Homo sapiens: one gene and its partners. The protein of the gene in region 3 purifies or fractionates together with the protein of the main gene of each other region. This does not show direct contact. Each region holds a gene or a part of one and is shown on either strand. Other genes may lie near its edges.

Region 1 (7,027 bases), on a different chromosome or scaffold from region 3:
TCATTCAACCCAGCCGATTGGAGAGCGGCTATGAAAAACGCTGGAAAATGTGACCAATCAGGAGAGTTATTTTTGTGAGAAAGAAGAAAAATGTCACCAAAAAGGGTCAGCAGATAACCCTATTGGGCTGAAAATAACTGCCTGGCTGGCAGACCAGTAAGGGGACAGGCGGAGGGCGAGAGACGTAATGCAAAGTGCCAAGGGAGCTCCGGCCGAGTGAGGCTGCTGGGGGATGAGGAAATTGGCCTAATTTGGGAACATGAGCCCAGCAGCATTTCTCAGATTCCTGCGAGGGAATCTGGCTAACTTTCAGTTCTGCGTCCTCGGAGGAACACCAAGGGAATAGGGGGAGAGAAAGGGAACAGCTGTGACTCCAACACTTCTCTAGACCACTGAACGAATAAGGGTGATCAAGTGAGAACTTACTCCCATTCCAAAAGGACCCCAAGGGAATGACCCTAAGTCTCTCCGCCCTTTCCAAAATCCTCTTCTCTACTGGGAGGTCTGTGCTTCTTCCCATCTAGCAGGTAGGAGAGGTTAGGCACTTGAGTCAGAAAGACTCAACTAGAGTCACAGATTAGCTGAATGCTTCTGACAAGTTACCCAGACTCTTAAAGTCTCCATGTCCTCACATGTACAACATGATGATAAGAGTACCTACTTCAAGAGCTACCATAAGGCTCAACTAGGACACTGCATGTAATGAACAGATAGCTAGCAACTGTTGCAATGTAAGCTATGATGATGATTATTAAAAGGACAATCTGCAAAATAAAAGCTAAGCCAAAAACAGGTCTAGATCCCAGCAAGAAATGCTCATCCAAAAGATGAGCTAGCCCTGGAGAGGTTTTGCCAAAGATTACTTTTGCCCAAACTCAGTAGAAGGTAACTTTTCGGTAGAAAGCATCTGGGTCTGTCCTTAAAAGAGTTCTGTGAGGGCACAATCATTTGAATCAATAGAAGGTCAAGGCTCAAGCAGAGAAATCTGGTTTAACTCTCAGACCCATCCTCCCTAGAGAAAGCTATACATCACAGACATGTAGACACTCATCATAGAACTATCTTCCAGCAAAATCCTCAATACCTATAATTCCAACCTGAACTGCTAGCTGAACCATGCTTCTAGTGATCCAAGCCTGATTTGCAACAGGTGCACCCCACCCCACCCAAAAAATGTAGTCATAAGCTTTCTTAGTACTTATCATTTCTCCTTGGGTTTCTGTGTGCCGGATACCGTGCTAAGTACTTTACATGCATTACCTCATTTGATCTTCACAACAACCCTAAAAAAGTAGACACAACTCCAATCTACTCCAAACTAGTAAAATCACACAAAGAGTTCATCTTTCTGGTAAATTTTAAAATTAGACAGTTAAGTGATTTGAAATGTATCGAATGACCAAGCAAATAAAGAGACTTTTCCTCTTCTCTCAGAGCAGGAAGAAGAGTTTAATTACCTGGACCAAACCACAGGCATCCTACTGGCACCACGTCCTAAGTGGGTATGGAGACAATCAGAAGGAAAAGATCAAGAAGAGGCCACTGAATCAGATATCCTGGAACTTAGGGCATACAATTTTTTTTCACTCAACTCCAAAACAAAAACTGGAGAAGAATGTACATTTTTTTTAAGCTAAAATAATTTTCTCTTCATACCCAGGGCTACAAAAAAAAAAAAGGGCTTTCTATAATTTCTATTTGTTTTAAATTGACATGTCATTTTTGAACTGCCTACTCAAGAGCCATTCTACTCACCTCCCTTACCAAGAAACCCCGATGCTATGGTGTGGTAATGTGCCCATTAAAAACTCCCCTGAAACTGAGAGTGTGGCTGTAAGATCCAGTTCTGACCAATGAAATGAAACTAGAGCTCTCCTTAGTGAGGACTCTGGCTACTGTTTTCCTGATAAGAAGGGGTACACCCTTCTTACTGGCATGCACCTTGAACTCTTCAACAATTCCCTCTCTTCCCACCTAGAATGCATATCTGATCCCAGGAGAATGACCAGCCATCTTGCAACCATGAGAACAAAAGTCACAGGCTCCAGATAGCAGAGCAGGAAGCTGGAAGGAGCTAGAGTAATGCAGGACATGCTCCAGTGACTGCACCCACTCTGCTCTGCCCTCCACTGGACTCTTTGCTATGTGAAAGAAAAATTGCTCCTGTTTGATTCAAGTACTGAAGTTGTTTCTGTTGTAGGCAACCAGATTCAATACTGATAGATAGAGGAGGCCACTTGAAAAATTAATCTATCCTAAAAGACAGGAGTTTTCAATTCAGACGGAAATGGGAACCAGGCAGATCAAATGTGAGTAAATCTGACCAGGTGTATCAAAGTACTAAGCAGTTAACTGGAGAGGGATGGATGCATGTAAGCTATCAGCAGCTGCAGCACCAGCCAATTGCCGCCATGTGGGAATGTCAACCCAGCATTCTCACTGTGCCAGGGCTTCTGATTTTAAAGAGAAGCCCCAAATCTGAATTTCCATATTACATTTCCTGATTTATAAATGCGAACCAAATTTAAAAATTCTTAACCCTGTATGGATCACATAAAACATGACTATAGGCCAAATTCAGCCTGAAGGCCACCAGTTTTCAACCTCAGTAGAGGTTAAGGTGGAATAAAAAGAATGCCCAAGTTCTAGAGAAATAATAATGGTTGGCAACATACTGAGCATGTGTGTGTCAGACTAAGTTAAGGGTTATATCACTTTGTCTTTCCAGCTATCCTATGAAGTATGGAATATTATTATCCCTGTTTCACCAAAACAGGAATAATAGGAAAATGAGGCTTAGCAAGATTAACTCAGTATCACAGAAGCTAATGTATGACAGGGCCAGGATTTCAGCCCAGACTGGTATGACTCCTAGGCCTGTGCTTTTACAGACTCTTAAGAAACGCCTGCTGCAACTAGAAAGCAAAAAAACTTTTCTCCAGGTTGGGTGTGGTGGCTCACACCTGTAATCCCAGCACTTTGGGAAGCCAAGGCAGGAGGATCGATTGAGGCCAGGAGTTTGAGACCAGCCTGGGCAACATAACAAGTCTTCGTCTCTACAAAAAAAAATCAGTCAGGTGTGGTGGTGCATGCCTGTGGTCCCAGCTACCCAGGAGACTGTGACTGGAGGATCGCTTGAGCCCGGGAGTTCAAGGCTGCAGTGAGCCATTATCATGCCACTGCATTCCAGCCTGGGAGACAGAGCAAGACCCTGCCTCAAAACAAAAACAAACAAAAAAACCCTCTGCTCTGGATACCTACTAGCCAACCTATGGATAAATGAGTAGTAGCCTGTGAACAGATTTCCAAATCAGTTCTAAGAGACTCTGGCTGGCATGCTCTTTCTTCGGTGCCCTTTAATAAAAGCAGCAAAGTGCTGTCCCAATATGCCTTTATTCACTAATTTATTGAATGAATGCTTGCACAGTGCTTTTCAGTTTATTAAAAAGCGTCTCAATGCGTATCTCACTTGCCCCCATATCAACCTGGTGGTATTACTATCACTATTTGACAGATAATGAAATGGAGAATTAGAGAGATTGGTGGACTTAATCACAATCCAGGCAATTAGCACCCAGTCCTCTGGTGCGAAGCCCTGTGTTCTTTCTGCTTCCTTCACCAGAGCTCCCAACTCCACTACCTCGCTTTAAAATAACCATGTGTTTGAACTAATTTCCACTTAAGTCTAAAGTAACTCCAGCATGTCTGACAGCTCCCAGGTACCATATTTACGTTTGCATGGATATCTTCATCCTAGAATACAGTCAGCAAGAGGACAAAAATAAATATATCAAGTAATAGAATCGGAATGTAAATGGGCACACACACAAGTCTTGGGATCTAATTTTAGAAAGAAACAGCCAAAAAGTCCCACACAGCACAGTGAGCATCTGGCCCCGTGGGAGGCTGCCCACACTGTTTAAACCTCAATTAGCCCAGGGAGAAAGGGATCCTGGAATCCTAACTGGCATCTTGCTTTCAGAGGCAACAGTTGGGTGAAGAGCAGAATGACTTTTCATCATGTTCTCCCACAAAAATGGTAATGCACAGAGTTAAAAAAAGGTAAACCTCGAAATAAGTAGGTATTACTGAATGGCTGAAACCCTGAAAGGATTCATCACACTCTGTGACTATGGAGTTATATTCTCACAGCAATGATTCTCACATGGGAGCCAAGGGAAGTGGATGGTAGGCAAGCAGGGCCCACTGACCCCAGCCTAGGAGCTGATTTGGTATGGGGGTCATATAAGGCTTCAAGGCCTAATGAGGTCATCACAGGCTCATTCACCTAACTACCATAGGTGGCTATAACCTCCTTCACAATTAAGTAGACTTTAAAATATATATACATACATACACACACACACACACACACACACACACACACACACACTCTTGTTAATATTTATATATATATATATAATATATACTCTTATTGTTAATTATATATTTATGTATATATCACTCTTGTTGCCCAGGCTGGAGTGCAATGGCAAGATCTCAGCTCACTGCAACCTCCGCCTCCCGGGTTCAAGCAATTTTCCTGCCTCAGCCTCCCAAGTAGCTGGGACTATAGGCACATGCCACCCAAACCCAGCTAATTTTTAAATATTTTGCAAAGACAAGGTTGCCCAGGCTGGTCGTGAACTCCTACGTTCAAACAATCCTCCTGCCTTGGCTTCCCAAAGTGCTGGGGTTACAGGGGTTACAAGCATCAGCCACTGTGCCTAGCCTTAAGTAGACTTTTAATTATTCTTCCTGGGTGCCAGTGATCACGAGAATGTAACTTCCATTATGGCAAGAGATCTTGTCTCTTTTGTTCACTGAAATATGCCAACCCTGCAAAATGGTGCCTGGCACTTACTGTGTGCTTCAATAAATAGTTGTTGAGTAAATGAATGAATGATCTGGTGTTGGAATTAATCCTCCTGGACCCATGTGGAACAGTGTAAAGTGCCAGAGGCCAAGAATTGGCTTCCATCAGCTCAGTCATTTGCTTCCGCGTTTTCTCTTTAAATACATACACCACTGCAGTTCAAGCTCCCTGAGATCCAGGGTTGGGTCTGGTATATCTTCTTTCACCAAATTCCTACTTTATATCACCTCTCCTAACTGTGCCTCCAATGCTCCACTATCCTCGCCTCCCAACCTCCCTGCCCCAGGCCCCATAACACTTCTACATAGCTTCTAATGTGTAAGTACATCACACACTATGTACTTGACCCCACCTCATCCTGCGCAATAACAATTGCAGGCCTATTCTGCCAGGCACTGTGACAGATAATAGGGTACGATGATAAGACACAACCTCTGCCTTCCAGATGCTCATATCTTATGAGAGAACCAGATATGTAAACAATTAGAATACAATGTAATAAGTATCACAATGGAGGTGCCATGGCCGCAGTTACAAACTGACAATCCTTGGACCAAATCCAGCCCATATGATGATTTAATATCCAGTCCATATGGTGATTAGGTTTTCTTAATCAGGTGCTAACCTCTAAAAATGTGTTGCTTTCACATAAAATTTTAGACTGCCAGCATCTCTTGAAGAATCATATCTGGCAATACTGGGCCTGTATTCTCGACAGCACCAACCAGCTTTGGCTAAGTAGTGGTTGTCCCTTTAGAGGGGGCATGTGGCCTCCAGTTCCCAGTCCCCCTGCCCTAACTCACTCCCCTAGTTTCTTCCAGGCAGTGATGCCAAGGGGTCAGCTGCTAGTTTTTCTAGGCCAGCACAGATGTTATCTTAAAGTAATGATTCTCCATACCCACACTTCTAAAAGGAGAAAATGAAAGATAAATGGACAAGGCCATGTGGAGAGCTTAAGAAAGTGGTGGAGAATGCATTTCCTACGAAAATGAAGAATATTCCTACCTATGTGATATGTAAGTGAAGTGTGTCCATGTCAGGTACCCGGTTCATTTGCTCATGCACCTGCCTGACCCATTAGGCTTCTCAGCATGGGTCTCTTCATCTGTTGCAAACCTACTATGGGCCAGCAAGCTAGAAGCCAGGTTTCCTGCTGTCTGGGAACTCACTGTCCGGTGGGGGAGACAGACATGTAAAAAGACAATTCACATATAATGGCATATGTTCACAATAGGTACTATGGGAAGTGAAAGGAAGGACTGCTAAGTCAGCCTGGAGAGGTTAGAGAAGAGCTAACTTCTGGCAGAGGATGACCCTGAGGCTGACTTTTGCAAAGTTTTTTCAAATGGACAGAGGAAGGTAAAAAGGGGCTCTGAGTAAGCTGCCAAAAGTAGTGCCCTGGCAGTAAAAAGTATTGCTCATCAGAATTACCCACCCTCCACAAAGAAGCTGGATCATTTCCCATAATTCCAGGCTACTCGGAAAAGTTTCCAGGAAAGTAAGGCCAGTAAATGATCTGCTTCCTGCCGGAAGACTGTAGAAAGCGCAGGTCACCACCGAGAGCAATGTCCAATTGTGTAATCCAACCTTACGTCACCAGTCTGCCTCACTGGCATTTATTCAGCGGAAATAAAAACCTGGAATCCTACTGGATTTTGAAACTTCCCAGTCCCTTGCTTCAGCTAACATAAAAAGTTCTACATTAAGAATATAAGGAAATGCACAGAAACTAGTCTGGCATCAAGGAAAAAAAGTTCTTCCATTTCCTGCTACAAGGACAAATGCCAAGGAAGGGAATTCCCAAATCAAGACAGGAGAAAGGGTTGGCATTCAAGAGAAGAAATATGGAATACCAAATCCTTGGTCATTAAGGAATCACTAACTCTTAAACAGTATTTCTTCAGATTTTCTTTTTTTTTAGCACCCACCTCTCCAGTCAGAGTCAAAGAGGAATTCTTGCCATTGAGGTGATTCTCGGCCTGCGCTGACTCCTGTTGAGCTCGGCGACCCATCTTGGCCCTCTGTAAGGAGAAACAGAAGGCACTGCTGACCCAAATGTCATTTGGGCCACTACTGAGATGACAATCCAGCCGGGCGCAGTGGCTCACAGCTGCAATCCCAGCACTTTGGGAGGACGAGGCAGGCAGATCA
Region 2 (7,027 bases), on a different chromosome or scaffold from region 3:
CGTCCATAAATCATCTTCTATGGCACCATTGTTAATGTCTATTTAGTATTTCATTATATTGGTATTAATATATCATAATTTGCTTAACCAATTTTAGTATTGGACATTTAGGTGTCTCCACATTTTTACTATTAAAGCAACTGTATCTTTGTATCCAAATCTTTGCATAAATAGTTAATACTTTCTACGATAAATCTCTAGAAATGGCATTCACTGGATCGAAGAGTGTGTACATTTATACAAGTTCCTAATATGTGTACACAAATTACCCTCCAGAAAGTTTGCACCACATTGCATTTCCAGTTTTCAGTTCCCTGCTCTAGAAGGAAAGGAATTAGAACCAGCAATCCATCTTTTTACATCAGGTTTACTTCTCTCACAGGCCAGCTTCCAGTGTTTTGCTGGAGCCCATCTCCCTTCACCTTCTCAGGTACCTTTCTGCCAATTTATCCTCTCTCTCTCCTTTCAATATCAGTCCTCTCTCCTTTTCTCTCCCTCACCAGTGACTTTCATGTTCTAAATCTAATGGACAGCTTTTATTGACTCATCAGGATTTGACTTGAAACATTATTTTTCCAGACAAGAGAATTCAGAATGTTTAAGTTATTGTTATATTTAGACGTACTACTTTTCTCTCCTTCTCTGGTCAGTCCTCAGTCTCTTTGCTAGATTTCCCTCTTCTATTAGAATTCCTGAGAACTTGCTTCTGGGCTCTCTATTCACTTGCTCTATTTATTCTTTCATTCTCATGCCCTTAAATGCCATCTGTGGTATGAGGTGAAGAGCCCCACATTTATATCTCCAGCCCAGTCCTGATTTTTCAGACGTGGGTGTCTCCACTGGAGTCTTTCACAGGTATCTCCTATTTACTGTGTTCAAAACCGAACTCTTGATATTCTTCCAAATCTCTTTCAATTCTCTCCATTTCAGCAAATATCTCCATTTCACTCATTTGCTCAAGCTGGAAATCTTCTCTTTTCCTCCGTTAACAACATCTGCATCAGCAATCCTGTTGCTTTTGTCTCCAAAGTGTATGTTGAACCCATCCTTTCCTTTGTCTCCCCTGCTCCCTCTATAGCTCCAGCTACCATCATCCCTCACCTGGTCTATTGTGAGAATCAGTTTCCCTCCTTCCATTGTCTCTGGCTTCCTCTTAGTCGTTCTTGACACTCTAGCCAGTGTCAGGCTTTTTTTTTTTTTTTTTTTTTTTTTTCCCGAGATGGGGTCTCACTCTGTTGCCCAGGCTGGAGTGCAGTGGTGCAGTCTTGGCTCACTGCAACTTCCACTTCCCGGGTTCAAGCAATTCTCCTGCCTCAGCCTCCTGAGTAGCTGGGATTACAGGTGCGTGCCACCACGCCCAGCTAATTTTTTGTATTTTTTTTTTTTTTTTTAGTAGAGACGGGGTTTCACCGTGTTAGCCAGGATGGTCGTGATCTCCTGACTTCAAGTGACTCGCCCGCCTGGGCCTCCCAAAATGCTGGGGTTACAGGCGTGAGCCACTGCGCCCGGCCCTTTTTTTTTTTTTTTTTTTTAAAGGGACCAGATGATGTCATTTCCTTGCCAAAAGGTATTTAAAGGGCTGACAGCCTGGGTTGGAGCTGCTTGTGGTAGGGTTTGAGGATGATGGTCCTGGGTTGGAGCTGCTTGTGGTAGGGTTTGAGGATGATGGTCCTGGGTTGGAGCTGCTTGTGGTAGGGTTTGAGGATGATGGTCCTGGGTTGGAGCTGCTTGTGGTAGGGTTTGAGGATGACGGTCCTGGGTTGGAGTTGCTGGTGGTAGGGTTTGAGGATGATGGCCCTGGGTTGGAGCTGCTTGTGGTAGGGTTTGAGGATGATGGCCCTGACTAGGATTGAGGTGGCATTTCTTGCTTTTTCTGCTACGACTGCCAAGGCCTCCACCCTCATCCTCATGAGAGGAAATAGAGAGCCCTGGAAGCCAACATTTGCATCAGAGAAAAAGTATATAGGGCCATGGAAGCCAACTGCAGCTGACTGCGCAGTCCTCCGGTACCTGCAGGCAGTGACATTGCCTCAACCTTCCAATATGCCCAGGACAACAAAATTGACCAGAAATCTCAGGTAAGGTGTCCTTAGCTAGACCCAGGGATGCATACAGAGTCCTTTGCAGTCAGTCATTCACACAGAGAAGCAAGGCAACCAGATGATCCTGCCAGAGAATCTGGCGAATATGGTACCATCTCTTTCTCAGAATTGTATTATCCTTATGTGTTGCAAAACAGTCTTCTGTATATTTTGATTCTAGGTTTCAAGCTTATTTTGCAGCATGTAACAGGAATTTCTGTTGAAATTGGGCTGCTGACAACTTTTATGAATGCAAACAAAAGCATTGGCAGTCACGCTTTTCTAAGAGAAAGATTCTCAAAGATTTAGTGTGCTTGGTTATTGGTGTTATTAGCATGATCTTCTGTTCTTCTATGTCATACCTTTTGTTTTCAGTTGCTTTATTACACCTTAATTTTTTAAAAGCCTTCTTTGGACTTTTTGATGTACTTCGGATTGTTGGAATAACTGATTTCATTCTGAAATTCCTTTACATGAGTTTAAAATGCTTTATTTTATTGGTGACTTCTTCGATTATGCCTTTTAAATCCAAGGATTACTGTTATGTGCTTTTAGAAGATTTATGTCAGTATTACCAGATTTTTGTTCACATACCAGTTTGGTTTCATTACCTTATTGGCTATCTGGAGTCTAGTAATGTAACTGAATGGAATCTTGGGATATTATCGCTGGCTTTACTCTACATCATTTAAAACTTTTGGCCTTTTTATGGACATCTGAGAACTTTCAGGTGGGTTTTATGAATATTTTTTACATGATCAAGTTACGGAGTTGCTTCCAGCAAGAGACGTTTTCAGATGTGGATGATATTTGTTCAATATATCAAGCTGAATTTCAAAGCCTGTTCTTAACTGTCAGCATGTGTTTTGTCAAGAGTATGCTACCTTATGGTCTAACAGAGGGCAAACATGGGTGGTCAATCTAAATCTCATATGACCCATTTCACTTAGGTTATAGTGACATCAGAATATGTGGGTGTGTGTATATATGTATATATATATATATATATATATATATATATATATATATGCATTAGAATGGATTTTTCAGTGCTAGAAGTTAAGAAAAATGTTTCCACCAAATATTTTAGAATATTATAATAAAGTTTAAGTATGTTGTACAATTTTTAAAAGATTAAATGAATGAAAGAACCCTGTGTTAAAAAAAATTATGTTCAGCCTAATGTGTGTGTCAGCAACATTTATTCTATCTTAATTGACAGATGATTGCATTGTTAAACTGTACATGTGTACTCTTGTGTTACCAAAACAACTGGGTAATTAGAACTAGTGATTTAGAGGAAATTAGGTATCTTTTCCTGACAATGTTTTCAGAATAAAGGATATTTTTCATAATATTTTAAGATACTTGTTATCTGAAAGTAGAATTTTCTTTAGCATTGGTATAATTCCCATTCTCACAAATTCTTAAGATCTTCATAACATTTGTATTTTAAATGAAAATTTTAAATGCTATGTTTTATGTGTAACAGATTTCTAAGCCAAGATTAATTTATTGAGATGACATTTTAATATTCTCTGTAGGATGGTTAGTAAATTTTTAAGACGTCTTTAGAGGTTTTCATTGCACTTTGGATAAAATCTAAAATTCTTATCATTTTCTACAAATACTTCATAGTTTTTCTTGTGCCTATCACTCCAGCCTTGTTTGATGCAATTTTCTCCCCTGTTCATCCACATAGGCCTTCTTAGAGTTTGTCAAGGGCTCTAGTTGTCTACCTCAGAGCCTTTATGTTGCTGTGTCCTAGCCTGGAATACTCCCCTTCTTTCTCTACCTTTCCTGGCTATCTCCAGTTTACCTCTCAGTCTCAGCTTAAATATCAGTTCTTCTGATAGCCTTCCCTGGTTCCCCATCAATCTAAATTAAGTCACTTCTGCTACTCTTTCTTATTATGCTTTCACATTCCCAGTTTATAGTTACATTTATGTGTATGTGAGTATATATTTAATATTGGTCCCTTAGACTGAAAGCTCTGAGAAGAAAGGGGAAATGACTGTTTTGTTCACCATTTTATATGTAGAACCTTTTGTAATGCATAGCACAGTGTACACATTTCATAAATATTTGTTAAATGAATGAATAAATGAGTGAATATAAGATTCTGTGTAATCTAGTAAAAACCCATTTTCAAAGTCTATGCTCTTTTGATCCCTTGTAAGCTGTAGAGTTTTCAATCTGTAGGCCATAAATATTTCTATTTGTGGTCTTTTGGAAAGGAATAAAAAGCAGTGATGATTATTAATATATGTAATGTATGAGTAAACAATCTTCATTTATATATTTTGCTTTATTTTACCAGAATATCTTTGCAAGGGGTATGTGTTATTGTTCATGTTTATACCATGAGAAAAATATATCAGAATGGGGCATACTTAGAAAAATGATTAATACTGCCCAGGAATACAAAAAGAGTCAAAATCTTATAATATGTCACTTTTACATATTTATCATAGTAGTTTGTTTTGTTTTGTTTTAGATGATGCAAAATTGAGGGGCCTTGCAGCCCCCAGTAACCTTTCTATGAATCAGACTCTTGAAGGTCATAGTGGTGAGTCATTCAATTTCTTTTAAGTCATGTTTGAGTGGTATTTAGGCATTTAGAAAGTTTCTACTTAATGCAGAAATGTCAACATTTTAAATAATGGTAATATTTACAGTACAGATGCTCTTTGAGTTACGATGGGGATATGTTCCAATAAACCCATTGTAAGTTGAAAATGCATTTAATACACCTAACCTACTGAACATCGTAGCTCTGCCTAGCTTACCTTAAATATGCCCAGAAAACACTAGCCTACAGTTGGGCACAATCATCTGACATAAAGCCTATTTTATACTAAAATGTTGAATATCTTATGTAACTTATTGATTTCTGTACTAAAAGTGAAAAACAGAATGGTTGTATGGGCACTCGAAGTACGGTTTCTACTGAATGTGCATTGCATTCCCATCACCGAAAAGTCATTTAAGTAGTACCATTGTAAGTTGGGAGCTGTTTGTAATCATTTCTGTTGAGACATAAGTAATACAACTTAGAGTCATTCAACTTTTACATGATTAAACAACATCTTAAATAAATCTAGAAGAAAATAGCTGTTTTTAATATATTGAAAATACTCCTGTCTATGGATGTTGTATATATAATCCTTTTTAGAATCTGTCCTATGATTCCAGATTAAAGGAGACTGAAGAGACTGGGTGTAGTGGCTAACACCTATAGTTCAAGCACTTTGGGAGGCCAAGGTGGGAAGACTGCATGAGGCTGGGATTTTGGAACCACCCTGGGCAACATAATGAGACCCTGTTTCTACAAAAAATAAAAAAAATTAACCAGGCGTGGTGCTGTGTGCCCGTAGTCCCCAGTACTCAGGAGGCTGAGGTGGGAGGATCGCTTGAGCTCATGAGTTGGAGGCTGCAGTGAGCCATGATTGTGCCACTGCATTCCAGCCTTGGTGACAGTGCAAGATCCTGTCTCAAGAAAAAAAAAGACTAAAGACTGAAGATGTATAACAACTAAATGCACTGTATAATCCTAGATTGGATCTTGGAATGAGAAGAACAAGTGTCTATAAAGGACATTATTTGGACAATTGGTAAAATTTGTATATGGACTGTGAGTTAGATAATAGTATATCAGTGTTAAACTTCCTAATTTGTAATATGATTATGGAAGAGAATGTCTTTATTTTTAGGAAATGTACACTAAAGTATTTAGGGATTAAAAAATTAAAAGTCATCAATTATTCACGTACCCTAGAGGTTTAAGATATGCTCAAGAGTGTTTTACTAATAGAATGGAAAACGAGTGAGAGGTGGGCAGAAGAGAGATTATAGGACATATCTACCAAAAATGATAAAAGTCCCCTAAACAAGTACTTGTTATGGTGTCCTTTGAACATCATTATTTTTGGGAGTCAGGCCAATTGAGTAAACCATGCTTGTATTTGTTTCTGTCATCAGGTATATGGTAGTTCTGGTAGCTAGCCATGATTGGTGTCTTTACTGGGATGAAATAGGGATAGATATGAAAAATAGTATTATGCATTGTTGTAGAAAATTAGTGATATCAATAACTGCATCTTATGAATAGGTTTTGAGGAATATTAAAGACTAGTTAGCTGTACAGGAACCATATTGATTTTAACATGATCTTGGTGTTTATATAAAAATGTGAATTTGAAATTAATTGTAACCTTTAAGTTTCTAAATTGTTTTATAATGTTCTAGGTTCTGTTCAAGTTGTAACATGGAATGAGCAGTATCAGAAGTTGACTACCAGTGATGAAAACGGGCTTATCATTGTGTGGATGTTATATAAAGGTATACTTTACTAGGAGAGATTATTTAATTTTTCACAAGTTGGCATCTGGATCACAGTATTTGGATGGGTAAATAACATCTCCAAAATAGACCCCTTTTACTAACAACAGGAGTTCATCCTGACTGCACAGTGATAATATTTCTGGATTTATTGCTGCCTACTTTTCACTTTTTTAAAACTTTAACCCTGTTATTAAGAAAGTGAATTAGGTGACTGTTGGCCATCTCCAAAATGAACTTAGACTCTTAGCAGAAGAATAGCTTCTACTTGAGATAAGTCTTTTTTTTTTTCCAGATTTCCAATAAGAATTACTTCTAGGTAGTTCCAGTTTATAATTACATTCATGTGTGTGTGAGTGTGTATTTAATATTGGTTCCTCAGTAGACTGTAAGCTCTGAGGGGAAAGGGGAAATGACTGTTTGTTCATTTTATACGTAGAACCTTTTATAATACATAGCACAGTGTACATGTTCAATAAATATTTGTTGAATGAATGAATAAATGAGTGGCTAGAGTTATCTCAGTAGATAAAAACACATTTAGTAAGAAGTCAAAGGGAATAATTCACTTCCTGCATGGGCCAGTTAGTTTCCTTTTCTTTTAT
Region 3 (7,027 bases):
AGATTACAAACTGAAATTATGATTTATTTCAGTAAAGACTTTGTGCAATGGAACACCAAGTCCCCTGCTGCTAAACAAAAACAACCATGAATTAAGTTATTAACTTGTTATTTTTGCCTAAGGAGCTGAAAGAAATATGTGGATTTCAGGTGTCTAATTTCAAATCTAATTGAAACTTTTTTGTAGCCTCTCAGGGAATAAAATTTGTACACTATTGGAAAACTTTGAGTCCCCTTAAAATTTCTCATGTGACTTATTCTAACAGAGACACTGTTGATGGAGAGATTGTTTTCATTCATAGTACCACATAGGCAAACTAAAGAAAATAGAACTAATGCTTACATCAATAATGGCAGCATTTAGCTGTAGGCTACTATACAAAGTAATATGGTAAATAAACTGTCTTTATAGGTGAAAATTTTTAGAGTCCTATTATGAATTGGAAAAACAGGAGAGCTCCTATTAAAATACCACACAAGTTTCTTCTATGACCTCTCCTACAGTTTTCACGGGGAGAGGGTGGGTATCACAAATTTTCATCCTCCTAATAACAACTCTCTTTGTTCTGTCTACAGAACAAAGCAGCTTGAAGCAGCTTCAAACTTCCAAAGTTCATCAAAATAAAGTAACTAAGGCAAGGTAATTCTATACACATAATTCTATATACAATTATGTATGTGTGTAGAACCAGTGGTAAAATCATGATTATCTCAATAGATGCAGAAAAGGCCTTTGACAAAATTCAACAGCCCTTCATGCTAAAAACTCTCAATACATTAAGTATTGATGGGATGTATCTCAAAATAATAAGAGTTACTTATGACAAACCCACAGCCAATATCATACTGAGTGGGCAAAAACTGGAAGCGTTCCCTTTGAAAACTGGCACAAGATAGGGATGCCCTCTTTCACCACTCCTATTCAACATAGTGTTGGAAGTTCTGGCCAGGGCAATCAGGCAGGAGAAAGAAATAAAGGGTATTCAATTAGGAAAAGAGGAAGTCAAATTGTCCCTGTTTGCAGATGATATGATTGTCTATCTAGAAAACCCCATCGTCTCAGCCCAAAATCTCCTTAAGCTGATAAGCAACTGCAGCAAAGTCTCAGGATACAAAATCAATGTGCAAAAATCAGAAGCATTCTTATACACCAATAACAGACAAACAGAGAGCCAAATCATGTGTGAACTCCCATTCACAATTGCTTCAAAGAGAATAAAATACTTAGGAATCCAACTTACAAGGGACGTGAAGGACCTCTTCAAGGAGAACTACAAACCACTGCTCAACGAAATAAAAGAGAACACAAACAAATGGAAGACCATTCCATGTTCATGGATAGGAAGAATCAATATCATGAAAATGGTCATACTGCTCAAGGTAACTTATAGATTCAATGCCATCCCCATCAAGCTACCAATGACTTTCTTCACAGAATTGGAAAAAACTACTTTAAAGTTCATATGGAACCAAAAAAGAGCCTGCATTGCCAAGACAATCCTAAGCCAAAGAACAAAGCTGGAGGCATCACGCTACCTGACTTCAAACTATACTACAAGGCTACAGTAACCAAAACAGCATAGTACTGGTACCAAACCAGAGATATAGACCAAAGGAACAGAACAGAGCCCTCAGAAATAATACCACACATCTACAACCATCTCATCTTTGACAAACCTGACAAAAACAAGAGATGGGGAAAGGATTCCCTATTAAATAAATGGTGCTGGGAAAACTGGCTAGCCATATGTAGAAAGCTGAAACAGGATCCCTTCCTTACACCTTACTCAAAAATTAATTCAAGATGGATTAAAGATTTAAATGTTAGACCTAAAACCATAAAAACCCTAGAAGAAAACCTAGGCATTACCATTCAGGACATAGGCATGGGCAAGGACTTCATGTCTAAAACACCAAAAGCAATGGCAACCAAAGCCAAAATTGACAAATGGGATCTAATTAAACTAAAGAGCTTCTGCACAGCAAAAGAAACTACCCTCAGAGTGAACAGGCAACCTACAGAATGGGAGAAAATTTTTGCAATCTACTCATCTGACAAAGGGCTAATATCTAGAATCTGCAAAGAACTTAAACAAATTTACAAGAAAAAAACAACCCCATCAAAAAGTGGGTGAAGGACATGAACAGACACTTCTCAAAAGAAGACATTTATGCAGCCAACAGACACATGAAAAACTGCTCATTATCACTGGCCATCAGAGAAATGCAAATCAAAACCACAATGAGATACCATCTCACACCAGTTAGAATGGTGATCATTAAAAAGTCAGGAAACAACAGATGCTGGAGAGGATGTGGAGAAACAGGAACACTTTTACACTGTTGGTGGGACTGTAAACTAGTTCAACCATTGTGGAAGACAGTGTGGCGACTCCTCAGCAATCTAGAACTAGAAATACCATTTGACCCAGCCATCCCATTACTGGGTATATACCCAAAGGATTATAAATCATGCTGCTATAAAGACACATGCACACGTATGTTTATTGCGGCATTATTCACAATAGCAAATTGTTGGAACCAGCCCAAATGTCCATCAATGATAGACTGGATTAAGAAAATGCGGCACATATACACCATGGAATACTATGGAGCCATAAAAAATGATGAGTTCATGTCCTTTGCAGGGACATGGATGAAGCTGGAAACCATCATTCTCAGCAAACTATCGCAAGGACAAAAAACCAAACACCGCATGTTCTCACTCATACGTGGGAATTGAACAATGAGAACACTTGGACACAGGAAGGGGAACATCACACACCAGGGCCTGTTGTGGGGTGGGGGAAGGGGGGAGGGATAGTATTAGGAGATATGCCTAATGTAAATGTTGGTGCAACACACCAACATGGCACATGTATACATATGTAACAAACCTGCACGTTGTGCACATGTACCCTAGAACTTAAAGTATAATAAAAATATATTTTTTTTTTGGAAAAAAAAAAAAGAACCAGTGGTAAAATTAGGGAAAAAATCTGAACCAAATAAATGTTAAATGTTTGAAGTGATGGATATGCTAATTACCCTGATTTGATCATACACATATATAGTACCAAAATATCACACTATACCCCATAAATACATACAATTATTATATGTTAATTTAAAAATTAAAAAAAACAAAATTAGGTAAAACATTGAGTTGGTCCAATTCATATCAGAAAGTTGATGGAATCTTAATAGGCAATTAAGAGAAAGTTAGGAAGGACATCCAGAATACATTTTCAGCTTTTCAGATTGAAATCACAGAAAGAAACCATCATCTCTAATCCCAAAATGGCCTTTCAGTAAGCCCTTCAGGACCCATTTGCTATAAACTAATGATTATGTTCTTTTACTAGCACTGGGTGCTTTAAGATGAATGTTATCAAACCAAGGCAGTGTTGGTACAGTACAGGTTGAATATCTCTTCTCCAAAATGCTTGGGATGAAGTGTTTTGGATTTCAGATTTTGGAAGGGTTGCAGAATATATACGAGTTGAGCATCCCTAATCCCCAAATCTGAAATCCATAATGCTCCAATGAGCATTGCCTTTGAGCATCATGTCAGCCCTCAAAAAGTTTCAAATTTTGGAGCATTTTGGATTTTCCCATTAGGAATGTTCAACCTGTATTGTGATTCTAGACGGTTGTGAAAAGTTACTCTAAAAAATAGTAATTAGAAATAAAAATTCCCAACCAAGATGTTACTTCAGATATTCAAAAAACAGCAGAAGTTGTTCATCTGTGGCTTGTATCATTTTGATTCCAACATTTTAAAATGTCCACATGTCTGGTAGGAAATTTATATTCCTCTTAAATATACCACCATATATGGGGTCTCAACTTGATTTATACTGCTATTTGATAGATTCCAGAAATCATTCAGTTTTTTTAACCCATTAATTAAAACCACTTTGTAACAATTTCTATAATTGTACTAGATTATATATATTCTCAAATTGTACTGAAATAAAATTGTATTTCTATAAAAGTACTAGGTGCCATGTCTACTGGCTGGTCCAATAACTTTTATGGCCACAAGTGAAGTCAACAGCATGAACAAATCTTAAAAAAGAAATTGAGTCCTTCTAGAAATAGTCTTATAATTTTAGCTTTTTACAACTCAGAGAAAGCAATCTATAATTCAAAAAGCATATTGAAAAGTGGCTGTCCCTACCAGTTTAGCCAGTAATCAATTTGGGAGTTTAATATAAGCCTGCACGCATCCTGGATATACTTTCATGATGTCAGTGAACAAAAGTACTTATTAGAAAGTGGCAATTTAAAACTGAAATGTGTGGATTATTTATGACTGAATGGCTAATTCTATAACAGAATATCTTTTAGTAACAAGACTAGTACCTCATGATTAAATAATCCAAAAAGACCCTAAGGATTTTGTTAGAAAGCAATAATAAAGAGCCCTTAACAACTTCTTGTGCCTGATCCTGCTTTGTGTTCCAGTAAGGAGGGTGAGAAAGGTCACTACCAGCACTAGCAACAGTCTCTATTGATACATGTTTATTAAGCATATGTAGAAGAGCTGCAAAATGATAGCTAAAGATGACTTTCAAGTTGCACATTTGCAAGAGTAAATATATGGCATAGATTCCATTTTCATCTCTAGGTGACATTTCTCAGCCTCCCCTGTGGCCAGTATGAACATGTGACTAAGTGGTCACCAATGGAATGTGAGCCGACATTAAGGACCCTGAGTCCTAAGCCTTGGGGAAACATGCTGCCCCCATGTTCTTCTCTCCTCCCCTCCAGGTACGATGATGACCTGACCTGGAACACGCAGGTGAGGACAATGTCCTAAAATATAATGGACATCCAGAAAGAAGGAACCTGGGTCCCTGATGACCCCCCAAAAAGGAGCCACCTGCTCATTTTAAGGGCTCTATATAGGCTGTAAATAAGAGAAATAAACATCTATCTCTTTTCAGCCATTGAATTATTATTAGGATTCTCTGTTATAGCAGCCTGGCCTTACCTCAACTAATTCAAAAGTTTATAGAACCTTATCAGTAATAATAAAAACGGCCAGTTCAAACTAAAAAGGGCAAGAAAACTGTCCGTCCTTTCTATTGTGTAGTCCTTGGGTAGCACTGATCTGTGGCATGGCATACACTGTAAAACAAAAATGGTTTCCACATAAAAACATAATTGCTCTATGTGTTTAAAAAGAAATGTATGCATTTGAGATAGATGGCTGTGAGAGGGACCAATTAAGCAACTTGAATTTTATATTTTCCCAAATGTTAGAAAAATACAGAAGCATGCAGCATTTCTTTGAAGGGATGAATTACAAAATCAAGGCAGTGTGGAGAATGACTGAATTCCCTGTGGAGTACCTCTTCCGTCTGTTTGTCCATTCTTTTAACACTGGGCTTTGGCTTCACTTCACAGGTAGGAGGCTGGGCCACAAAAGGGATACAGGAAGGAATGCTGGTGCTTACATCCTGCTCCACTTCTCCTGGAAGCAGCAGCAAATCTGTTGGATACAAAACATTTCAACTGAGCCTTTCGCAAAGTTCACAATTTACCTAAATCATTTAAATGCCCAGAAGTCGAAGAAAATGAAGCAAATATGCTCATGTAATGTAGATCCATTTCACAATGCCTGTCCTCCTTTGGGAACTGGACTCAAGGGATTGCCCTTTCCTCATAATAGAAGCCATTAGTGCATTTATTTTTATTTTATCGTTGCAAACGTAAGAGTCCCCCCAAAATGTCTGGAGGAGTACTGTTTTTGGAGTAACCTGACTGTCCCTTTTATTCTCAACTCAATTTCTACTTTTATATGAAAATAAGGTGATAAGATGTTACTTTTGCTTCATTTTCCCATATTTTCCTGGAGGGATAAAGAGAAAGAAAATGGAGTACTGATTTCATCCTGTAACAATATGGCAATATTTCAAAAATATATGTTAAAAAACAGTAATGCCAGAAGGAAAGTACTTTAACTTTCAGCAGAAAAGTGAAATATTCTGTCATATTCAGAATGCATGGTCTAATTTTCAACACTTGCAAAGAACAGCAGCAACATGTTTCCTGCTTGTTAAGCACAATCTCAAGAATTCAATAACCCATCTTGGTTTTCTGATTGATCCATTATAAGCAGATATGTCTCCTGATTTTTGCAGGTATGATAGTACATGGATGCATCACAGACAACTGATGATCTTCCACAGCTTTCTTTAAGGAGGACAAAAAAACAATTAGAAGCAGAACAGGTTCCTCCTCAGCCTGTTTTCATAGGACCAGAAGGGCTTGCTGGAGCTAGCCAATAACTTGGAGCGGACTCTGGATGATGCTGCCTACTTCTCAAAGATGATCCTAATTAAGGCACTAATTAACTTCTCAGTGGAAGTGATTAATAACAAGCATGACTTGACTGCTGCAAATGGCAGCATGTATAGGGAGATAATTGAGCAGGTATTGATATTCAAAAACTGAAACTTATTTGAAATGAATCCCTCAACACTATAGATATCCCCTTCACAAAAAAATATAATTACAAAATTCTTATGACTCCAGCAACAGAGAACACAGACAGCCTGGAAACAGAATTGTGGAGGGGAAATGGCAAAGAAGGCAATTCTGCTATGACTAATTACTGAAATCTTAGACTATGATTTCATTAATTAGCAGAAATAAAAACAATAATAATAGCCAACACTTACATACTCATCATTTTATGTGCTTTAGCTCAGCTAATACTCCCAAAGCTCTATTATTTCCCATTTTACAGACAATGAGCTAAGAGACAGTAGCCTCACTCAATATCCCACAGCTAAAAACGGCAGAGCTGGACAGTCTATCTACATACAGAGCCCATGCTCTTATCCTACAATGTCACATTACGAACTTTCTTTAAATAAGCATTTTTGTTACATATTTTATTTTACTGGATCAAATTAAACACTCAAACTTAGAACCAACAAATGTCACTACTATAACACATTAGCATGGTTAGGCAACATTAAGTACATTTCCCAAACATTTCACACCCAGAGAAA
Region 4 (7,027 bases), on a different chromosome or scaffold from region 3:
AAAGTCTTTCAAAGGTACACGTGCTTTGACCCAGCAATTTCATTTCTAGGAATTTATGCCAAGGCGCCAAGTTGGGACAGGTGCAAGGACCTAGCTAGAAAGATGCCTGCTATTTACAATAATACAAAAAAGCTATAAGCAGCAAACATGTCCAGTAGGACTGGTAAAGAAAGCTGTGGAACATCCACAAGACACAATAAAATGCAGCTGTAAATACAAGGCAGGTGGGGACCAGGCAGGAGGGAGGGGTGCTGGCTGTAAAAAGCACAACACCAGGGACCTTGTGGTGGTGGCAGTGTTCAGTGCCATGACTGTGGTGGGAGATTACACATGCCAACATGGGTGGGAAGATCACTCTAGAGCTATGCACACTGTTACCGTTGGGGGAAACTAGGCAAAGGGTTTAAGGGATCTCTGTATTATTTCCTACAATTTATGTGAGTCTACAATTACCCTAAATTTTGCCATGCAGAATAAGAACATTTACCATTTACTGACACAGAACGATGCTTTAGGAGATTGTTGAGTGAAAAGGCCAGATGACTAGTGTACAGCCAGCACTTCATAGACAGTGATGGGGCTGCCATAACCGAATGTGAGGTGAAATGAGAAGATAGCCATAAAGGAAGGGATGAGAAGTCTTGTTTACAGGCCAGGCTCAGGGAATACAGTAAATCTGAGGTTCCATCTATAGGTAGCAATACGTATACACATAAAAGTCATGAAAAGTATTTGCAGTGTGATTCCACTTTTGTTTAAAAATGTTCTTATAAAACCACATGCTCCTAATTGTATATTATGCATATATTATATATACACGTAGAAAAGCGCTAAGCAGATGTATTTCAACATGTTTAAGAGTGATTCTGTCCTGAGGATGGGATGCTGAAGGCTACAGTTTCTCGCTATGCACGTCTCTGTTTTATGGCAATTCTACAGTGAGCACCATCTGCCTGGGGTGCAGAAGGTGGAGGGGAGACCATCCTGCATTCGGGAGGTCAATCTCAGGCGCCTGTCTGTGGTTCTGCCCTCCCCCATTCTGTGGCTCCACCCTTCAGTGCCCCATTTCTGTTCTGGCCACCTCCTGGTTCAGAGAGCTTGTGCAGAGTCCCATGCTCCCTTATTGGCTCACAGACCTCAGCCCACACCCCCCACCCACTCATTCTCTCTCTCCCCTCTCTCTCACACACACATCACCACCATCACACACGTACTCACACACACACCCTGCCGGACTCCCGGCTTTGCTGCTCACTCCATTCGGCCCCACGCTGGGCTCTCTGCAAAACACACGCTGCTGACAACACTGCATACCCCTCCCATCCCTACAGAAAGGGGACAAGGAAGAAACTGATACTCAGGGAGGTTGAGCTGTTTGCCCCCAGTCACACAGGTTGCAAGGAGTGGAGACAGGGCGGCAGGTTCCAGGCCCAGACTGCCTCCCACGACCTCACAGCTGCCATTCTTCTCTCCTTGCTACTCTCTCCCCAAAGCACCAGCAAAGGGCCCAGCTTCCCTGGTCTTGTCAGCCTTGCCAGTGCTAAGAGTGGACAGGCACCCCCAGTTACCTGCGGCACCTCCACGGCAGAAATGGAGAAGACATGGAGGCAGAAGATCTTGGAGCCATTGTAGCCGACCACAAAGCCCTGCAGCTTCTGCCGGTGCACAGGGAAGGTGCTGGCTTTGATGTTGAGGTAGCCTCCTCCCGAGAAGCAGAGCATGTCCTCACACTGGGTGTTCCAAGCTACACTGTTGGCGTTTGGTTCCTGGGGAACAGGGACAGTGGGGATCCTGTGAGAACCACCCTGGGCTTGGTCAGCGCTCACACATTTCAGCCCAATACCCTCTTAAAGACTGAATCCCACTAAATTGCTTACAGTGGGATGGAGGGAAAAGGATGAAAGGGGACCACAAAGAAATGAACAGAGGCAAGAGAAATGAACAGAGGCAAGCCCCTCCATGCACCTGCGTGTTGTTGGAATTTTTGAGTAAGCAAGTATTACTTTTGAAAAAAAATTATTCTCCTGAAATATGCTCATACCTTTCTGCCTAGGATCTTTTATAATGACTAAATCTTTTATAATCAGCATGGATTGTTTTTTATAATGAGAAAAAATCAATATAGCTGTTTTATGTGTAGAGGGAGGGGCAGTGGAGAAGAGGAAAAGCCAGCAGGCAATGTTACAGCTGGGAATGCTGATGTCTCCTGGCAGGGCTGAGAATCACCTCCCCTAGCCTGCCATAGAGCCAGCAGTGGGGATGGGGCAGCACAGACGCCCTTCCACACTTGTATGATTCTAGGCTCAGACACAAGATTCACATTTGGGGCCAGCTATGCCCCCTATAGGTGGGAGGTGAGGCTGGGGAGAAGGGAAGTAACATTTCAGGCCCCATTTTGTGCTCAACACTGAGCTAGGCACTGTAGTATCTAGTGTATTCCTGTAGCAATTCTGTAAGGGGCAATTACTAATTTCATTTTAGAGAAAAGTAATTAAGGCTCAGAGAGGCTCACTAACTTAAGATCACACAGTAAGGGATGCAGGCAGGACCCAAGCCCAGGTCAGCTTGAAGGCTATGCCCTCTCTTTCCCCGAAACCATTCTACTCTCTCAAGGACATGAGTGAGTTGAGACTGACATGGAGTTACCTCTGGGCTAGAGGTGGCCAGGTAACTCCTTCTAATTGACTGAGGCTGCTCCCCACTCCAGACCCCTCCCCCATCGATTCTGCTGCTGAGAACAAGGAGGAGCCTGGTAAGGGGACTGAATCTGCCCATAACATCAGGAAACCCTGCAGTGGCCGAGGAAACCAGTCAGGAGGGGCTCCAGCTTTGGGGGGAACTTCACTCTGGAAAACCAGTCCTGACCACCTACAAAGACCTAAAGAGAGAAAGAATGGCGCGAGCCCAGCAGAAAGCCAACCAGGCCCGGGGCACAGAGCTGCCGGGCTGTCTTCTCTGGTGACACACTTCCTCAGGCCACAGGGCTGGATGACTCCACTGAACAACGCCTACAACCCCAAAGATCCAAGCACTTCGCATTCTGCTGGCTCTTCTAGCATTCTTGTGAATTAAGTAGAAGGCCAGGCTTGCCCATCCCCTTCCCCCTTTCAGATGACAAAACATCCTGTTTCCTTCCCACGCTGTAGGTGCGCATAGACACAGGCAGGCCTGCAGCAGGTGAGACACAGACTTCTGCAAAGGAAGTGCATCCATCGCCCCATTCACTGAGTGCCAACGTCACACCCCTCTCAGAGTCATTGCCCCATTTCTTGTTCATGGTAAACGCTTAAGAAAGGCTCTGCTGGCTCAGAGCCTTCGGTTTCCATTGGCAAGGAAACCAAAGTTAAAGAGGCCGGTCCAGGCCCTGCGGCTTGTGCCTGTGTGGGAGGAGCAGGTTGTGGCCCAGGGCCTCTGGGACTCTGTGCATGTGCTTGGCCCCTGCCCCTCCCAGAGACCTGCCTGGGCCAGAGCAGGAGAGCCTCCTGCAGGGACTGGGAAGCTAGAGGAGAGTCTCTAATCAAAGGATGATGTCCCTGGGCCCCCTCAGGGACTTCACCTGAAAAAGCAGCTCCTTGGTGTCGATGTCATACACCAGGCAAGTGTCATTTTCATCTACCACGGCCAGCTTCTTACGGGAGGCACTCATGTCCAAGCAGCGCACAGCTGTGGCCTGCTTCAGCAGGACGATAGCAAAGAGATTGTCCACGAAGATCTTCAGGATCTGGCAAAATTTCAGCGAAAACAGTGTCAGTCACCATGGCAACAAGATCCTGGCCCACTGCCAGGCCGTTGGAATCCCATGTGCTCTGCAAGAACAACTCCCACCACCTTCACCAGAAGCTCTGTGCAGGGAAAAGGACTCATCAAAAGAAAGAGGGGGGTGGGGGGCAATGGCTTATCCTTAGGAGGCCAGAAGCGAGGTTCATCAGAGGCTGCAGAAGTAATGACAGCCCTGAGACAGGCCGAGCTCACTTCAGTGTCTGTTCGGACTGGGGATTTGTTGATGACATTACCCAAACTGCAGCTTTAGGAGATGCCACCTAGCAGAGATCTGAGTCACGAACTAACACAGGAAAAAGCTACTATGAACACTGACAAGACATGTGGTAGAAAATTATAATAATGATGATAGTGATCATGATAGCTATCATTTACTGATATCCCTGGTTTAAAAAAAATTTTTTTTAGAGATAAGGTCTTGCTATGTTGCCCAGGCTGATCGCAGTGGCTATTCACAGGTATAATCATATCACACTGCAGCCTCAAACTCCTGGGCTCAAAGTGATCCTCCTATCTCAGCCTCCTGAGTAGCTGGGAAAACAGGTACCCTCCACCATGCCTGTTTTAATACCCCTGGTGTTTTTTTTGTTTTGTTTTGTTTTTAACATTGGCTTTAACTCCCAACCCTGATGATATCTGTTTTTGACAGCCCTATGAAATATGTGGTATTATCCTCATGTAAAACCAGCCTCACAGAGGTAAAGTGACCTGCCCAGGATGACAAAGCCAGTGAGTAGCTAAGTAAGAACACGACCTCCGGCCCACCTGACCCCATAGTCCATGCTCCCATTGGAAGTGAGAGCTGCCTGAGAAATAAGCGGCCCTTCCTCCCCTTGGCATTGCTGCTTGACTTCACCCACTGCTCTCATGCCCTGTGACTTCCATCCCCAGCAAAGACCTGACAAGCCTCAGCCATAAGCCATCTGCTGCACAGCTTGGCTGTCAGGCTAATGCAGCTACATTGTCACTTTCAAAGTTCCATGTAGCAGCCTACTTAGAACTTTTCTTATGCTGAGCAAAGAACACACGTGTACACATGTATACACACACACAGAATTTTGTGTAACCTGGATATCCCACATCTAACTGGCCAAAGGGCCCATTTTGCTTATGACATCTATCAGTATCTTGAGGACCCAGCATTCTTTAGGACACATGCTGGAACGCACTGCCTTAATCCACTCGCTGCCCTAATCAGGAGCTGACCTAGGTAACGATCTCTGCCTCCCTCTAGAAATCCACAGAAGCAACATCTCTAACAAATCTCCCACCTTCTGGAGACCTTAAGCCACTAATACACTCTACATGTAGCCAAAGGTTATAGCTCAACTCTGCCAAAACGTGGGCCTGCTAGGAGTGTGAGGGCCACAGCACCTTTGGCCTGAGGCTGTCCTCAAAAAACTGAACTCAGGCTGCCCCACAATTCACCCATGGAGGAGAGAAGCCCTTTTCCTGCCCTGAGAACCCAGCTCAGAGTCATTGCTAGACGGGTCACCCACGTGTGCATGCAGATTATCAGCCTGACAGGAGACGTGAGGGAGCACTCACCTGTCCATTCTTCAGCCCCACTAAGAGGCCTTCTCTTCCAGGAGGGCCACCGATCACCTTGATGTAACGAATGAGAGACTCCATCTGCCACTCCCGCTCCTTCACTCCGCTGAAGGACAGGCACTGCAGCCGTTTCTCCTAGGAAGCAAACCCAGCTCTGCATGGAAATTCAACAGAATAAGTGCCCCCAGACCTCCCCAAGGAGATCTTTCTGTCCCTAAGGGGAGAAAATACCTACACATTCAGTATCCATCTATCTAACCCAATGTAGACCCCACGATTGGCATCGTTAATCCAAGACTCCATGCAAGGCTTCCCCACGGAGCCCAATTCAGCCTCAGATCTTCAATGCAAACCCCCACCCAGGCAGCCTAGGCCAGAGGCAGCACTCAAAAGTACACATACTTGCCACATCTATCCTGTAATTTGTAGCAACCCTAAACCGCTTGGAGTTCTAACTTTGATTATTTATTTATTATTTGTTTTTGAGACAGAGTCTCACTCTGTCACCCAGGCTGGAGTGTAGTGGCGCTATCATAGCTCACTGCTGCCTCCAATTTCTGGCTAAAGCAATTCTCCTGCCTCAGCCTCCCAAGTAGCTGGGACTACAGGCAAGCGCCACCACACCCAGCTAATTAAATAATTTTTTTTTTTTTTTTTTTTTTTTGGTGGAGATGGGGTCTCTGTTTTCTAGACTGCTTTCGAACTACTAGCCTCAAGCAATCATCCTGCCTTGGCCTCCCAAAGTGCTGGGATTTACAGGCATGAGCCACTGCACCCAGCCCAGTTCTAGGCTTTTGAGAGATTTTAATAGTATTTTACACTACAGTGATTCCTAAGGAATTCTTCTCTTTTATCACCTCCAACAGAACTATGTAAAACTAAATCCACCTCTACTTCCAAGATGCTGGGCTAGCCTTCTCTCAAAGTCTTTCCAAACTTCTCTTGGCATTGACTTAGACACTCTCTAAGAATCTTGAGAAATATTTTTCTATGAAAAAAAATCTTTCAGGAATTAAAACTTCCTTGACAATTACTGAGTTGATACAAATTTTATGTGTATATGCTTATCAATAAAAACTATCTTCATTCTGTACACCAATTTATGTTTTAAGTCATTAAAGTATATCTAATCCCAGTATGACAAGATGTTCTGCAATAGAACAAGGTATTCTTGGCTAGACACAGTGGCTCACACCTATAATCCCAGTACTTTAGGAAGCTGGACAGGTCTCAAACTCCTGGGTTCAAGCATTCCTCCCGCCTTAGCCTCCCAAAGTACAGCCTCGCGTCTCTACTAAAAATAAAAAATTAGTTGGGTGTGGTGGCATGTGCCTGTGGTGCCAGCTACTCAGGAGGAAGACCGCTTGAGCTTGGGAGGTCAAAGCTGCAGTGAGCCATAATTGTGCCACTGCATTCCAGCCTGGGCAACAGAGCAAGACCCTGTCTGTCTCAAGAAAAATATTTTTTAAAAAATAATAAAATAAAACAAAAAAACATTCTCCAGTTTATGGCTCATGACTTGCTGATAGAGTCTGGTTCATCCAGATGCCAGGAAAATGAAAGCCAATAAGCACCACTTAGTTTGATGGAACAGACTTGTTTTCTAGTGACCAGTTTTAAAACCATGAGGTGGGCACCCTATCACTGGGGGGGGAGCACAAATGGAATTCAGCCCAACTCCTTCAACATGCTGCTG

What was found.
Region 1: the proteins of IFTAP (region 3) and IFT43 purify together in Homo sapiens (affinity purification with mass spectrometry; 4 studies listed by BioGRID and IntAct, with this or other methods). This does not show direct contact.
Region 2: the proteins of IFTAP (region 3) and WDR35 purify together in Homo sapiens (affinity purification with mass spectrometry; 3 studies listed by BioGRID and IntAct, with this or other methods). This does not show direct contact.
Region 4: the proteins of IFTAP (region 3) and IFT122 purify together in Homo sapiens (affinity purification with mass spectrometry; 4 studies listed by BioGRID and IntAct, with this or other methods). This does not show direct contact.

Annotation. Positions count from the first base shown.
Region 1 is NC_000014.9:75,988,755-75,995,781, reverse strand, and holds part of IFT43 (intraflagellar transport protein 43 homolog), read right to left. Parts: intron 6,898-7,027; coding exon 6,805-6,897; intron 1-6,804. UniProt on the Homo sapiens protein: As a component of IFT complex A (IFT-A), a complex required for retrograde ciliary transport and entry into cilia of G protein-coupled receptors (GPCRs), it is involved in ciliogenesis.
Region 2 is NC_000002.12:19,980,086-19,987,112, reverse strand, and holds part of WDR35 (WD repeat-containing protein 35), read left to right. Parts: intron 1-2,066; exon of another isoform or gene 2,067-2,992; intron 2,993-4,578; coding exon 4,579-4,650; intron 4,651-6,329; coding exon 6,330-6,422; intron 6,423-7,027. UniProt on the Homo sapiens protein: As a component of the IFT complex A (IFT-A), a complex required for retrograde ciliary transport and entry into cilia of G protein-coupled receptors (GPCRs), it is involved in ciliogenesis and ciliary protein trafficking.
Region 3 is NC_000011.10:36,646,488-36,653,514, reverse strand, and holds part of IFTAP (intraflagellar transport-associated protein), read right to left. Parts: intron 5,500-7,027; coding exon 5,360-5,499; intron 1-5,359. UniProt on the Homo sapiens protein: Seems to play a role in ciliary BBSome localization, maybe through interaction with IFT-A complex.
Region 4 is NC_000003.12:129,478,224-129,485,250, reverse strand, and holds part of IFT122 (intraflagellar transport protein 122 homolog), read right to left. Parts: intron 5,486-7,027; exon of another isoform or gene 5,467-5,485; coding exon 5,329-5,466; intron 3,722-5,328; coding exon 3,557-3,721; intron 1,767-3,556; coding exon 1,569-1,766; intron 1-1,568. UniProt on the Homo sapiens protein: As a component of the IFT complex A (IFT-A), a complex required for retrograde ciliary transport and entry into cilia of G protein-coupled receptors (GPCRs), it is required in ciliogenesis and ciliary protein trafficking.